4 linked regions of the Homo sapiens genome follow. The protein of the gene in region 3 interacts with the protein of the main gene of each other region in a biochemical or structural test. Each region holds a gene or a part of one and is shown on either strand. Other genes may lie near its edges.

The links. The genes of interacting proteins can lie anywhere in the genome.
Region 1: the proteins of SAPCD1 (region 3) and SHANK1 interact in a test that uses a peptide from one of them, tested with the Homo sapiens proteins (one large-scale study listed by IntAct).
Region 2: the proteins of SAPCD1 (region 3) and GOPC interact in a test that uses a peptide from one of them, tested with the Homo sapiens proteins (one large-scale study listed by IntAct).
Region 4: the proteins of SAPCD1 (region 3) and DLG1 interact in a test that uses a peptide from one of them, tested with the Homo sapiens proteins (one large-scale study listed by IntAct).

What each region holds. Positions count from the first base shown.
Region 1 is NC_000019.10:50,660,803-50,664,302, reverse strand, and holds part of SHANK1 (SH3 and multiple ankyrin repeat domains protein 1), read left to right. Parts: intron 1-1,620; coding exon 1,621-2,338; 3' UTR 2,339-3,500. UniProt on the Homo sapiens protein: Seems to be an adapter protein in the postsynaptic density (PSD) of excitatory synapses that interconnects receptors of the postsynaptic membrane including NMDA-type and metabotropic glutamate receptors via complexes with GKAP/PSD-95 and Homer, respectively, and the actin-based cytoskeleton.
Region 2 is NC_000006.12:117,575,012-117,578,511, reverse strand, and holds part of GOPC (Golgi-associated PDZ and coiled-coil motif-containing protein), read left to right. Parts: intron 1-1,040; coding exon 1,041-1,064; intron 1,065-3,159; coding exon 3,160-3,335; intron 3,336-3,500.
Region 3 is NC_000006.12:31,761,237-31,765,350, forward strand, and holds SAPCD1 (suppressor APC domain-containing protein 1), read left to right. Parts: upstream 1-1,419; 5' UTR 1,420-1,818; coding exon 1,819-1,932; intron 1,933-2,178; coding exon 2,179-2,319; intron 2,320-2,827; coding exon 2,828-2,923; exon of another isoform or gene 2,924-3,029; coding exon 3,030-3,119; exon of another isoform or gene 3,120-3,199; coding exon 3,200-3,295; 3' UTR 3,296-3,614; downstream 3,615-4,114. Other genes in the region: MSH5 (mutS protein homolog 5), read left to right, coding at 1-26, 236-379, 582-719, 876-949, 1,184-1,295.
Region 4 is NC_000003.12:197,134,613-197,138,112, reverse strand, and holds part of DLG1 (disks large homolog 1), read left to right. Parts: intron 1-1,434; coding exon 1,435-1,571; intron 1,572-3,500. UniProt on the Homo sapiens protein: Essential multidomain scaffolding protein required for normal development. Recruits channels, receptors and signaling molecules to discrete plasma membrane domains in polarized cells.

The DNA.
Region 1 (3,500 bases), on a different chromosome or scaffold from region 3:
GCTTCAGATACACAGAGGGTTGGGAGCAGGTTTTAAATATCCTTGTCCATCTACAGAGTTCACTTGAATTCTGTTTGAAGGTCTGCTATCCAAATGTGTCTGACCTTCAAATGTGGGTTCAGGGAGTGTATATTTGGGGCAACTTAAATCTATGCTCCCAGGTTGAAAAAAAAAAAAAAAGAAAGAAAAGAAAAAGGAGGCTGGGCACAGTGGCCTGCCTCTGTAGTCCCAGCTACTCAGGAGGCTGAGGTGGGTGGATCACTTGAGCCTGGAAGGTTGAGGCTGCAGTGAGCTGATATGACACCAAGGCACTGCAGCCTGGGGAACAAAGTGAGACCCTGTCTTAAAAAAAAAAAAAAAAAGAGAGAGAGAGAGAGAAAGAAAAGAAAAAGGAAGTGTATATTATTAGAGCAACTTGAATCAATGCTCCTACGCTGTAAAAATAAACAAACAAATGTGGGTTTATTAGGCCTTTAAGAACTGAATGCAATTCCTTGACTATTCTTAAGTATTCTGGTTAGAGAAGAGGATTTTTTTTTTCTTTTCTTTTTTTTTTTTTCCACTGCTTGTAGCAGCAACAGGAAGGATGCTTAATTCAGTCAACAATTGCATTAATTATTGACTCATGACCTATGTGTGCAGAGTGCCCTTCTGGGTGATGGGATCCCCTGCTGGACAGGACAGGCAAAGACTGTGCAACTCCACAGGGCTCATAGTCTAGGGACATAGGAGTGGGGGCGGGGCAGTAAACAAAATAATTGCAACCATCCTACAAAAAAAGCTACCACAATGGGATGGGTGGAGAAGGTCTCTCATGTAACAGGCAAGGTGGGCAGAGTAATGAAAGTGGAGAGGGAGCAGCTGCCCAGGGCAAGAGTGAGCCAGGCAGGGGGAGCAGCCAGTTCAAAGGCCCTGAGGTGGGACAGTGCTGGAGGGGAGGGAACGAAAGGGATGAGGGGAACCTTTTTCTCCCCTTGTTTCTTCTCTCTTTCATCTCCCTCTCTTCATCTCTCTCTCTCTGTGTCCCCTGTCCCTTCCATCTCTCTCCCCTGGATGCTCACCCTCTTTTTGTCTCTCTCTCACTGTCTCCCCATCTTTCACTCTGCTACGACTGGCCATAACCTGAAAGGCAGTATAGAATAGTGGTGAAGAGCTCAGACTTTGGTGCCATATAACCGGGCTCTGCCACTTCCTGTGTGTCCTTAGGCAAGTTATTTAACCTCTCTGTGCTGATAATAATAGTAACCTGCATCAGGGCTGTCGTGGGGATTAAACTGAGATGCAATCATGTAAAGCACTTAGAACAATGCCTGGCACACGTGAGCATCAGTAAGCGGTGACGATTATTATTATTATCACTTAATGTCTCTTTTTCTTTCATCTCTCTTAACTGTCGCCCTCTCCCTGTCCTCTCATCTTTCTCTCCCTTCATTTCTTTCCTCGACGGCCGGCCGTCTTACCCCTTGCTCCCTCCATTTCTTCCCGTCTCTCCTCCGTCTCTCCCCCTACCCTTATGTCTCTCCTCCTCTCTCCCTATATCTTGACCTCTGCCTCTTTCTCACCCCTGCCCTTGCCCCCTAAATCCCTGTCCTCCCCCACTGCCCCCTTGTCACATTCCAGACTCTCCGACGACTCCCAGTCCTCACTCCTCTCCAAGCCTGTCAGCAGCCTGTTTCAGAACTGGCCCAAACCACCTCTGCCGCCACTCCCCACCGGAACAGGGGTCTCCCCTACAGCCGCTGCGGCCCCAGGGGCCACCTCACCCTCAGCCTCCTCCTCCTCCACGTCCACCCGCCACCTCCAGGGCGTGGAGTTCGAGATGCGGCCCCCTCTGCTCCGCCGGGCCCCCAGCCCCTCGCTGCTGCCCGCCTCGGAGCACAAGGTCAGCCCTGCGCCCAGGCCCTCGTCCCTGCCCATCCTGCCTTCCGGACCCCTCTACCCAGGCCTCTTTGACATCCGTGGCTCCCCAACTGGAGGGGCAGGAGGCTCGGCTGACCCCTTCGCCCCAGTCTTTGTGCCGCCACACCCGGGGATATCCGGGGGGCTCGGGGGAGCCTTGTCAGGGGCCTCGCGCTCCCTCTCACCGACCCGCCTGCTCTCGCTGCCCCCGGACAAGCCGTTTGGCGCTAAACCTCTGGGGTTCTGGACCAAGTTCGACGTGGCTGATTGGCTGGAGTGGCTGGGTTTGGCGGAGCACCGAGCCCAGTTCCTGGACCACGAGATCGATGGCTCCCACCTGCCCGCCTTGACCAAGGAGGACTACGTCGATCTAGGTGTGACCAGGGTGGGCCACCGCATGAACATCGACCGGGCTCTCAAATTCTTCCTGGAGAGGTGATGGCTGGCCTGGACGGACCAGCCCCGTCCACAGAACTCTTGAGCCTGCTGGCCTCTTGACCTCTGACCCCTGACTGTCATTCTCTCCCCGGGCCAGGGACTCTGTTCAAACTGCGCCCTGCCCTCATCTCCCAAGGCCAGAGGTCACCAGGTGGCCCAATCCAGGCCGGACATTTGCACCTCACTGAAGGGGGGCAGCTGACACAAGAGTGTGTGTGTGTGTGTGAAGCGGGGAGCGGAGGGGGGATAGGAGAAATTACAGAGGGGAATTGAGAAGGAGGGAAGGGCCTATTCTGGGGGGAGGGGATAGACAGAGCCATAGAGGGTCAGCCCTGAGCCCGATTGGATGGGGACTGTCCCCCAGGCCGCAGGGGAAGGGGGTGCCCTCGGATTCCACCACCTGCCACCCCTCTAACAACCCTTCCCACTCTCTCCAGGCCCCTCAGCTCTCCCCCCTTCCCCTCTCCCCAGCACACACAGCTGCCCCCCTCAGCCTCTTGCACGCTCCGTTGCACGCCTGCTCACCTCTCTCCCCTCCCGTCCCCGGGCTGCAATTTTGCACAAATTTGCCCTCTCGCTGTCTTGCACATTCTGCCTTTGCTTCTGGCTGGCGAGGCCCGCTCAAATACACTCTGCTCTCCTCGCACACGCTGCATTTCCTTTCTCACGCTCCATGCCTCCTTCTCTGCTTCTTGCTGCTTACACACTTTTCCCCTACCAGGGCCCTCCTTTACACACTCCATTTCACATCTCCTCCTCCCCGCTCGCTCTGGACCCTTGTTGCAGACACACTTGGGACACATTTTCCCTCCCCCTCACAGACTCCATGCACATCATTCATTCTCTGGAGTGCCCTGCTCTTTGCTCAGCCCTTGCACACTTGCTATCTTATGCACCCCTCCTGACACACTCTTACCTCCATTTTCTTACGTTGAAGCACTTTCCCTTCTTATTCTTAAAAACCCCAGATTCTTCCACTCCCCAACTCTCCCCTCTCACCATGACACTCCTAGCCCCCCACCCCCCGCCTTCCCTCTTGCCCCTTTTGCACCGTCACTTTTGGTCACGCCTTTTGCACACTTGCCTCCCAGAAACTGTTTCTCTCACACATGCTCATTCTCTTCTTCTTTGCCAGGCTCCCACTCCCTTGCCCCTTTCTGTTT
Region 2 (3,500 bases), about 86 Mb from region 3:
GACCGGCAGTCTAGAGTTGATACGGCAGCTCCACAAATATTAGAGATCCAGATTCCTTCCATCACTGTGCTCTGCCATTTTTAGCTTATGGTTTCCATCCTCAGGATTTCTTCATGTCTGCATTTCAGGCAGGAAGAAGGATTAATCTAAGGAAAGGGCAAAAAGATGCTTCTCCATGATGTTAGCCTTCTTTAAAGAACTTATTATTAAATCTTTCTCAGTAATTTTTGCCAGCATTTCATTGACCATCCCCAGCTGCATGTCAGTCTCCTATTGGCCATATGGCCACTTCCAGTAAAACTGGAGTCTGTTAATAAGGAAGAAGTAAGAAATGGAATTGGGTACCAACCAGTAGCACATTCTTTTCTTTTGCTCTTAATATATTGTAAGCATTTTTCCTGCCACTGTGTACCACATATGTTTTGAGTGTGTAAGAGATAGCAGATATTTTGTTCCTATATGGGACACAGCAATAAATAAGACAGCTATTGCTTGGCAGAGGCAGGACATGAAATGATGTTGATGATATAATGAGAGTAATACATTTATAAGTTTTATTTGTTTTCAGTTAATTTCATTTGGTTAATTAGTTCCTAGTACTGATGTGTTAAAATTCATGAAAATAATTTTAAGTTAAACTCTTAAGTTTTCTAACTCTGTGAATCTGTGTTAGAAGGGTTTTATTTAACTGAAATAAAAGCTCATAACTGCTTCTTCGAGCTATTTGACATTAACATTCAGAAACAATCTAAATTTTCTCTAGAAAAGAATTTACCTGAAGTTTTAACATTAGAATTTGAAAGAGTATGATGAAAAGAACACTGTACCAGTTATGTTGACTAATTTTGATAAAACAAAAAGTTTTAATCTAATGCTATTACAGTTACTATTGTTTATAGATTGCAAATATATTTGTTCTAATGAACTTTACCCAAATGATATCCAACATGTGGGATTTTTCCTTATAATGACTATACCACTAAATAAAATCATTTGTTTGATCTTTTTCTAATTATAAAACTTTTTTCTTATATCTGAAGTCTGGCCCCTCTGTGGAGGAGCTGGTAAGTATATTGTTTCTGTTTTGCTTTAATATGTCACGCTGAAGTGTTCTTAGTGTTTTATTTGCATATTATATGTTGTCACTCATTGTATTTGAAAATAGCATTAATAATGGCAATTTTTTAATGTTCCAGTACCTGAAAAGTTCAGTGGATGGCCCATTGCTCTTTTCTCACTGCATGTTGTTAAACATTTTTCTTTTGTTAGTGATTTATAGCCATTATTTGCAGAGCCTGTCAATTTTTGACAATTTTTGAGCCTTGTAGCTTGCTCATACCTCTACTTCAAAGAGCAATTGGTTTTCCCACTTCAGGGTATTGAAGATATATCAAGCAGGCTTAGTTTTTAACCCCCTTAAGTTTCTGTTTGAAATTATTTCCAGAAAAGAATGTGCATGTTGGTTTCTTCTTCATCTACTGCGTTACAACTTTTCAAGAGTCTTGAGAATAATCGTATGGCCTTTGAAACAATTGAATTTTGAAATGCTTTAGCAGAAGTTATTTTAGAAAATAACAATACATTTTTAATATTTTTCTCATTACCCCAACCTAATCAAGTTCCAATTTGTCTTATGGCTTTACCTCTTTTGAAGATATAATCTTTGGTATCTAAATGTAAAATGAACATCTTGGGTGTTACCTAGTAACAAACAGGTTAACTAAGAACCAAGAAAATTTTTTTCTGGAAATCTAGAAATGGTTAACTTCAGTTTCCTTCATCTTATTCTTGCTTACCTCTGTTAATTTCGGGCCCAAGAGTTTGTCAGATTCATTAGGGATTTGAATCATTAAAACCCCAGTGAGTGGTAGCTTAGTATGTCTCCCACATTTCATTAATGTAGTATAAATAGCTCATTAAAGTAATTGAAAGTAGGTAATCATCAACATAAAGTTTATTTAGCCCATAAGCCAAAGAAATCTTGGTCTAGGAGTGCTCTTTCAAAAGTTGCATCAACTTTAACATGTCATAAGAAAGATTTTTGTTTGTATCTCCAAACTGGTTTCTTTTGAAACAGATACTTGCCCTTTTAGGACATAGGTTCTGAAATAAGAGTTTAATAATTCCAAAATTATGTTAAAAGGAGGATTCTAGATTGAGTTTTTCGAATCCTTTAAAACCAGTATCTAGAAATTACGTTCTAATCTTTTTTTTCCCAGAAATTGAGTCTGCTAATCTTTCATCTGTTTGTCATATATATAACAAATATTTTTAATCAAAGAAGTGATAAATATATCTAGCATTTAGTAGTTGTCATTAATTTTAGCTTGTATGTGTGTGTGTATATGTAAATATATTTTTTTTAGGATTATCGTATTTATTGACTAGTATTCAAATATATCTATTTTGATGTTGTTCAAAACAGTAGACCAAAGGAGGCACATTAAATTAGTACCAAAATATATTCCATGAATTGCTGAAAATTTGCTTAAATTTGTTTCTTAGCTTCTCAATATCCAGAATAAAAAGGGAAATAATTATGTAAAATAATCAGTGCCCATACAATAGAAACAATACTATTCATCATTTCCTCAAGAGAAACAATTTCTCTGGTGCTAAGGTAGGTTTTTATTTACGTCCTCACAAAAGGGACAAAGGGGGTATAGGGAATAATGTCTTCCACATATTGTGAACAAATGTAACCATGTTTTCATAGGATTTGTGGATTCTGTAAAAGCAGTTCTGCTCAGGATAAATGCAAGTTTTCAGTGTTTACGTGGTTTTTTTGATCTATAAATAACAGTTAAAATGTCTATTGGGGTCCTTATTTAACTCTCAAAAGGGTTTTAGAAGTAAATAGCAGATTCAACTATCCATTGAAGCCACTTTTACTAATATGTGATAACATGAGCTTAGAGTAGACTACTTTTCTTACTATACTCCATATCAGGGTAACCCATGGCGTGCAATTATTTTATCTAGAAGTAGTTCCAAGATGTTATGGTACTAGTTCAAAAGAACTACATCCAGATCTTTGTGTTCCATTTTATAGAGATGATACATTGTTGAACTGTAGGCTTTTGTGCATTTTCAGGAACATGGTCTAGTGCTAAAGAGTTTTTATTTTCATTAAATTATATGCTTTTAAAAATTACATAGGAAAGAGAGCTTGAGGCAAACAAAAAAGAAAAAATGAAAGAAGCACAACTTGAAGCTGAAGTGAAATTGTTGAGAAAAGAGAATGAAGCCCTTCGTAGACATATAGCTGTTCTCCAGGCTGAAGTATATGGGGCGAGACTAGCTGCCAAGTACTTGGATAAGGAACTGGCAGGAAGGTGTGTAAAAAATGGGTATTATTGTACTCTTAAGTGACAAATTGGATATTTAATGAGGTTGACTCTTACTTCTTTCTTTTTTTATTTTTTATTTTTTTGAGATGGAGTCTTGCTCTGTTGCCCAGGCTGGAGTGCAGTGGCATGATCTCTGCTCACTGCAACCTC
Region 3 (4,114 bases):
ATGAATTTGGAAAGGGAACCAACACGGTGAGGGGAGAAACTGATGAGGGGAGAAACTAAGGAGGGGAAAATGGAGGAGGATGAAGGAGCATGACAGTGAGGCTGGGCCTCTGGAATGGAATAGGGCTGTGTGGGCAGAAAAGAAATAGAACACGAGACAGGGAAAGGCAGTGCAAGTGCAGAGGGGCATATGGGGTCCCCATGGCTCCGAATGCTAACCTCTGCCCTCTTTGCAGGTGGATGGGCTCGCGCTTCTGGCCGCTGTGCTCCGACACTGGCTGGCACGTGGACCCACATGCCCCCACATCTTTGTGGCCACCAACTTTCTGAGCCTTGTTCAGCTACAACTGCTGCCACAAGGGCCCCTGGTGCAGTATTTGGTGAGGAGACCAATCTAGCTCCTCGGGGACCCCCAGGCTGGGCATTTCCCAGAGGTGGGGATTGGCTCCTCTATCAGAACAAGGGCTCCCTCAGCACAGAGACCACATCCCTTCCCTTTTCTCCCTCCCCACAGGATTGGCCAAGGGTTTCAGGACAGGAAGGAGGTGATTGATGATACACTGTCTTTTATTCTCTTTTAAGACCATGGAGACCTGTGAGGATGGCAACGATCTTGTCTTCTTCTATCAGGTTTGCGAAGGTGTTGCGAAGGCCAGCCATGCCTCCCACACAGCTGCCCAGGCTGGGCTTCCTGACAAGCTTGTGGCTCGTGGCAAGGAGGTGATGAGATCCAAATGTGCAACCACCTCCACATCAGAGCTCCCTTTCATTCCTAGTCCTACTGGGCCTGGGTCTAGGTCCACAGGATTTCTGACCCTTATTTCCCCTTCTCTTCCCCACTCCCCTTACTCCTCCCACCTTCTTGCTTGTTCCTAGGTCTCAGACTTGATCCGCAGTGGAAAACCCATCAAGCCTGTCAAGGATTTGCTAAAGAAGAACCAAATGGAAAAGTGCGTATATGGCCCCAGTGTCTTTACCCTCTCTGCATCTTCTCCTGCAACTCTTCTCCCCTTTTCAGGGACTCAGCCTTCCTCCAGCACTTTGCCCTTCAGAAACCCACCATTTCTTTCTGAAATCCCTAAATCTTCAAGATCCCAGGTTTTCTGTGCCACAGCCTCTCCCCTCTGCCCAGGGATTTGGTTGTCCATTCTGCCATAAATCTTGCGATTTTCTCTCTTCTTCAGTTGCCAGACATTAGTGGATAAGTTTATGAAACTGGATTTGGAAGATCCTAACCTGGACTTGAACGTTTTCATGAGCCAGGAAGTGCTGCCTGCTGCCACCAGCATCCTCTGAGAGTCCTTCCAGTGTCCTCCCCAGCCTCCTGAGACTCCGGTGGGCTGCCATGCCCTCTTTGTTTCCTTATCTCCCTCAGACGCAGAGTTTTTAGTTTCTCTAGAAATTTTGTTTCATATTAGGAATAAAGTTTATTTTGAAGAAAGATATTGTTTCTTTAGTCTCAAAACAAGAGACTAGGAAAGATCCAAAACACAGAGCAGGAGTCCACAGGGGAACCTGCCCTGCCTCAGTAAAAATACAGTGTTGTTGCTGTAGGAAGACTCCCGGATTCTACCCCAGGATACTTCATGAGAACGAACCCCTTCAGAGAGGCCCTACAAAACAGATTAGAGGGAAGACAGAGGGGTCCAAGGGAGATGGTCTCTCTTCTCAAGTAGGAACACCCCAGCCTCAGACAGACACAGCAGGAAGGGGCCTGAGAGGCTGACAGAGGCAGGATGGGTGCAAGGCAGGGGTGGAGGGGAGGGACCAGCCCGGGCTGCACCAGTGGGAGTGGCTCCACCCTTCCCACCTCAGAGCCATGGGGAGCCAGGGCTCTGGCGGGGTGCCCTTGGTGCAGGCTCCCTACACAGTCCTGCTGCTGCCGCTGGGGACAAGCCGCCAAGACCCAGGGGCCCAGAGCTTCTTCCTTTGGGTGAGTATCAGCCCAACAAGAGGTCCCAGGGGAACTCTCTCAATAGATCTGCCCTTTATATTTCCATTCAACTTGAGGGCCCACAGTGTTCCCGCCTGCCTCCCCTTGCCCTCCAGGTCCTCAGTGGCCAGTCTGGGTTCACACTCAGTGACCACACAGTGAACCCAACTAGGGGTGGAGAGAAAGGGCCATAACCCAGAGCCCTACTGTGGCGTGAGAGTCAGCCTCTGTGATTGCCTTTCCCAGCTACGCAGGATGCAGGCTCTGGAGAGAGAACAGGATGCCCTGTGGCAGGGTCTGGAGCTGCTACAGCATGGCCAGGCCTGGTTTGAAGACCATCTGAGGGAGGCACAGCGACAGCAGCTGCATCTAGGGGCCCTTGGTGAGGTATGGGGGCTGCCCCTCTGTGTGAATGGGGGGAGGACCAGGGAGGGAGGAACAGGGAATGTGTAGACACAGCCTGAGACCACTCTGGAGAGGGGAGAGTTAATGGTCAGGGATCATGAGTTGGAGGCAGCATCGTAATGACAGGATGCCACCAAGTGTTAAGTTGGTGTTCATTGTTGGGGCTGGAGGAAGCTGGTCTGCATTCCATTCAGAGGGATTTGGATCACTCCATGGAGATGAGGGTGTGGCCTGGATTATTCCAATGGGGCAGGGATGGACAGGGAGGCTCCATGAAGAGTAGTGAAAGGGGGTATTGTGCTATTTGAGGGAGATGGAGGAACTGATGTGCTAAAGAGATGGAGGTGGAGAGTACTGGATTTTCCCACCTGCCTGGGAGGGTACTGGGACGAGGGGATCCAGATGAGAGGGATGGCCTGTGGTGACAGGAATAGAGTGGCAGACGACCTCAGGTTTTCACCATGTTGTCAGCCTCCAACTCCTCCTCTAGAATTTTCTAACAGATTTACACTCAGAGCCTGGTCGCCCCCCGTTAGCCCAGATTCAAAAGGTGAACATCTGTTTGCAGAATCTGATTCATGAGAAGGTGAGTTTATTGTTTTCAGTTTAGACTTTTGGGAAGTTGGACTAGAGAGGGGAGTTGTTGGGGTCAGTGCTGGCTTAACAGAAAACACAGCGAATTTCCCCTCCAGTTCTCCCCAAGTCCACTGAACAAGGCTAGTTCCTGCACCACCCAGGATTCAAAGGAAAGACGAAGGGAGCAGAACTTGTGGCAGCAACAGGTAAACTTCAAGAAGGAGGGCAGGAGCCCCACCCTACAGGGCTGGGAGGAGCCCAGAGGCCCCATCTGTTTCTCCTCCAGGAGTTGTCAAGGCAGCAGAAAGGAGTCACCCAGCCAAAGGAGGAGATGGCTCAGCGGGGCTGCACCAAGGGGCCAAGAGGCCCTACCCGTGTCTAAACCCTCCTCTCACTCCCCTAAGCCTGGTGAAAGAGTCAGAAGCCCCAGGCTCCTTTTTCTGTTTCTTAACTCAACAGCTAAAAAATGGCTCCAGGTAGTGAGTCAATGAAGTTCAGACATGTTGGTGTAAAGTTTCTCCTCTGCTCCTGAAAACTTCATCTTCTTGGTGTCTCATGTCCTCATTCTCCCCTATATGACATGCAAAAACGATCTTTCTTTGAAATCCCTCTGGGAAGAAGCATGTTTATTGAAACTGTCCTTCAGCCTTAAATACAAAAATAAAACTGAAACTGCTCCAGAAAGCAGCTTTCTCCAAAAATGTCTTTGGTTTGTTTCTCATAGGGTTAGGAAAAGTGCATTGTGGGAATATCCATTGCCCTCTATCCCAGTCTTGCAGGGTGTTTTGTTTTGTTTTGTTTCTGAGATAGGGTCTCACTGTCGCTCAGGCTGTAGTGCAGTGGTTCGACCACAACTCACTGCAGCCTCAACCTCCTGGGCTCAAGTGATCCTCCTGCCTCAGCCTCCCAGAGTGCTGGGATTACAGGCGTGAGCCACTGCACCCAGCCCCAGTCTCGAAGTTTCTAAGAAAGGAAAGGGATGTGATGGAGAAAGAAAACCTTCATTGGCTGGGCACGGTGGCTCACGCCTGTAATCCCAGCACTTTGGGAGGCCGAGGCAGGCAGATCACCTGAGGTCAGGAGTTTGAGACCAGCCTGGCCAACATAGTGAAACCCTGTCTCTACTAAAAATACAAAAAATTAGCCGGGCGTGGTGGCGGGCACCTGTGATCCCAGCTACTTGGGAGGCTGAGGCAGGAGA
Region 4 (3,500 bases), on a different chromosome or scaffold from region 3:
CAGAACTTGAGTGGATTTTAATTTCTCCGTTATTTCTACTGATTTTTGTCTTACGTAGCATTTTAGAATATTTACATTTCTACCAAGATTGCAGCATTTGAAAAGTTCCTTTTTTTGCGGGGTTTTTTTGTTTGTTTTTTTGAGGCAGGGTTTTGCCCTGTCACCCTGGCTGGAGTCCAGTGGTGCAGTCATGGCTTACTGCAGCCTCAGCCTCCTGAGCTCAAGCGATCCTCCCACCTCACCCTCCCAAGTAGCTTGGACTGCATGCACACACCACCACACTGGGCTGATTTTTTTTATTTTTTGTAGAGACGGAGGCCTCCCTGCATTGCCTAGGCTGGTCTCAAACTCCTGGGCTCAAGCAGTTCTCCCACCTCAGCCCCGCAGAGTGCTGGTATTACAAGTGTGAGCCACTGCACCTGGCCCAAAATTCTTACGTTTATTGATGTATGCTTTTATACATTTTACTGCAGTGAGCATATATATAAATTTATAAGTTTTTTATGATTTTTATATTCAATATTTGCTCAGCATGTTTTTAAGAGTTTTTAAAAGTAGGGAACAAAATATCTATTTGTTTTATAAGTGGATATGTCCCTATTTGTATTAAGTATTCTTATATTGAAGACTTCTAGCATTAAAAGAGTGAAATATTTGTGTCCTTGAACACTTTGAAGTTTAGTATTGCTATTAACTTGTGATAATCTACAAAATACTTTAAATGCAGGTACACAGGCTAAGTTAAAAGAAGAAGTGTTTATAATATGTATTATGAGCAGTTACATCTGCAGTAAAGGACTGTTAAGATGTGATTGCTGAATTTTTAAAACATTGATGGCTTGAGGATAAATGGAAATAGTAGTTTCAATATGTGGCTTCATGGAAGAGGGAGGATGTCAACAAATGAAAAAGGAATGGAGAGCTGAGAAATTATCTGATATTGAAGCTATGGGATTTAGGAATTACAGAAATTCCTTACTTAAAATTGTTAATTCATAGAATATTGAAGAAGAACAAAGGTATTCACATTTTTAAAGCCTGTTGGTTCTGCCCACCATCACCAGACAATGTTGTTATTTCTTCTCAATAATTTTGTTCTTGTGAAAATATTAAAAGTGTAGGTAAGCATAATTATGATGGAAACAAAAGTAAAACATAATTTCGCAATGTCACTTTGGAATAACAAGTGCATTTGCGAAAAGATACTAAGAAGGAACATGTGGGATAAAAGGAATCTATTCGTAACTCTAGGAGCAGCTGTATGTCTAAGTGTCCCTTGATTGCAGAACATATACTAGTAGATAACTAAATAGATTCTTTTCTATTTTAAAAAATATTAGTGTGAGGGAATAATTACCTTGTAGTTTTCAACCATTTCTTTCTGGGCTTAAGTTCATATTTATGGATGAGAATCTAGAACTGTTTTCCAAACAGGTCTTGGGTTTAGCATTGCTGGAGGTGTTGGAAATCAGCATATTCCTGGGGATAATAGCATCTATGTAACCAAAATAATTGAAGGAGGTGCAGCACATAAGGATGGCAAACTTCAGATTGGAGATAAACTTTTAGCAGTAAGTATAAGAAATCTATTGTCTTTTAAATCATTTTGTAGTCTGTTTATTTTTCTGATAGATACTGGAATTTCTCCATACCAAAAAGGTCTAAATGATGTTTAAATTAGCAAATACTAGCCTTGCTGTATCAAATCCTAAAAAATGATTCTTGGTAATTCTTTATTTGTCATTTCTCTTTTCTCTGCTAGCTCCTCCTCCCTTTTCCTTTTATTCCTTTGTTGTTGTTGAGGGCTTGTATGCACAGAGTGTTTCATCATAATCCTTAGGTTTATAAAACAATGTCATCATTTGTTTATGCATGACCCTTTTTTATTTTACTTCACTTAATAGTATAATGAAACCTAGTAATTACCCAGCCCAAGAATTAGAACATCAACCATTTTGTGTTTCTTATTCCTTTGCTTCTTAAAAATTGTTTAATCAGGCCGGGTGTGGTGGCTCACACCTGTCTGTAATCTTAGCACTTTGGGAGGCTGAGGTAGGTAGATTGCTTGAGCCCAGGAGTTTAAGACCAGCCTGGGCAGCATGGCAAAACCCTGTCTCTACAAAAAATACAGAAATTAACCAGACCTGGTGATATACACCTATAGTCCCAGCTCCTTGGGAGGCTGAGGTGAGAAGATCACCTGAGCCCAGGAGGTTGAGGTTACAGTGAGCTGTGATTGTCCCACTGCACTGCAGTCTGGGTGACAGAGTGAAAGCCCATCTCAAAAAAAAAAAAAGTTTAATTATATACATATGCCTAAATAATTTTGTTTAGTATTATTTGTTTTGAAGCTTTTTCAAAACACTATTGCACTGTATGAGACTTTCATCTCCAGTATTTTTTTCACTCAATATTGCTTTACTGAGACTTACCCATATCATTGCTTAGAGCTAAAGTTCATTCATTTTATCTCTACATACTATTCCACTGTATGTCTGTACTGCAATTTATTTGTCCAGTCTTCATCAGTGTATTAGTTTGTTTTCACACTGCTATGAAGAATTACCCGAGACTGGGTAATTTATAAAGGAAAGCGGTTTAATTGACTCACCAGACTCAGGAAACTTACAGTCATGGTGGAGGGTGGGGGAAAGCAAACACGCCCTTCTTCACATGCCAGCAGGAGAGAGACGTGCCAGCAGTGGAAATGCCAGATGCTTATAAAACAATCACATCTCATGAGACTCACTCACTATCAAGAGAACATCATGGGGAGCCACCTCCGTGATCTAATCACCTCCTACAAGGTCCCTCCCCCAACACATGGGGATTACAATTCAGGATGACATTTGGGTGGGGACACAGAGCCATACCATATCAATCAATAACTGTCTCAGTCCATGTTCCTTAGGGAAACGGAATCTGAAGAAAAGCTAAAGTGCTAAGGTATTATTTGGCTGTGTGATCTCAAGAAGGCTAGAGTGAGTAAAAATGAGGAGTGAAGCAGAGAATGAACGAGAGCCAATAGAAGGTAGAATGTGTCTGAGCTGGCTGTAATTTTATAAGGTAGCTTGTTGCTTGTCATGTATAACAGTCTTCTAGGCAGACACTGTAAAAACCATCCGGGCATCATAAACCTTACATCCAGCCATCCAGAGAAAAGAAAGAAAGGTTTATCTGCTGGCCCTTTTATTCTCCTGTCTCTTGTCTACCCCCTAGGGGTTATTTGTCCCAAGCTTTTGGATTGTGTTACCCAACTCCCCTGGGCGCAGTTTCTAGGGAAGCCAGCTCCTATACTCCATGGCACAACACTTCACCCAAGCCCAAAAATGGTAGAGTTGCAGTGGTATGACAGGTCAAACATAGGTTTGTGACATGTTATGGCCCTCACTGTGTGGAACACATCAGCCATGCCCAGTCCCAGCCAGAAGAGGCTCAGAAAACTGGGAAGGGCAGGAGACAAGATGAAAGTAGTATAATAGTCAGGACTCTCCACTGAG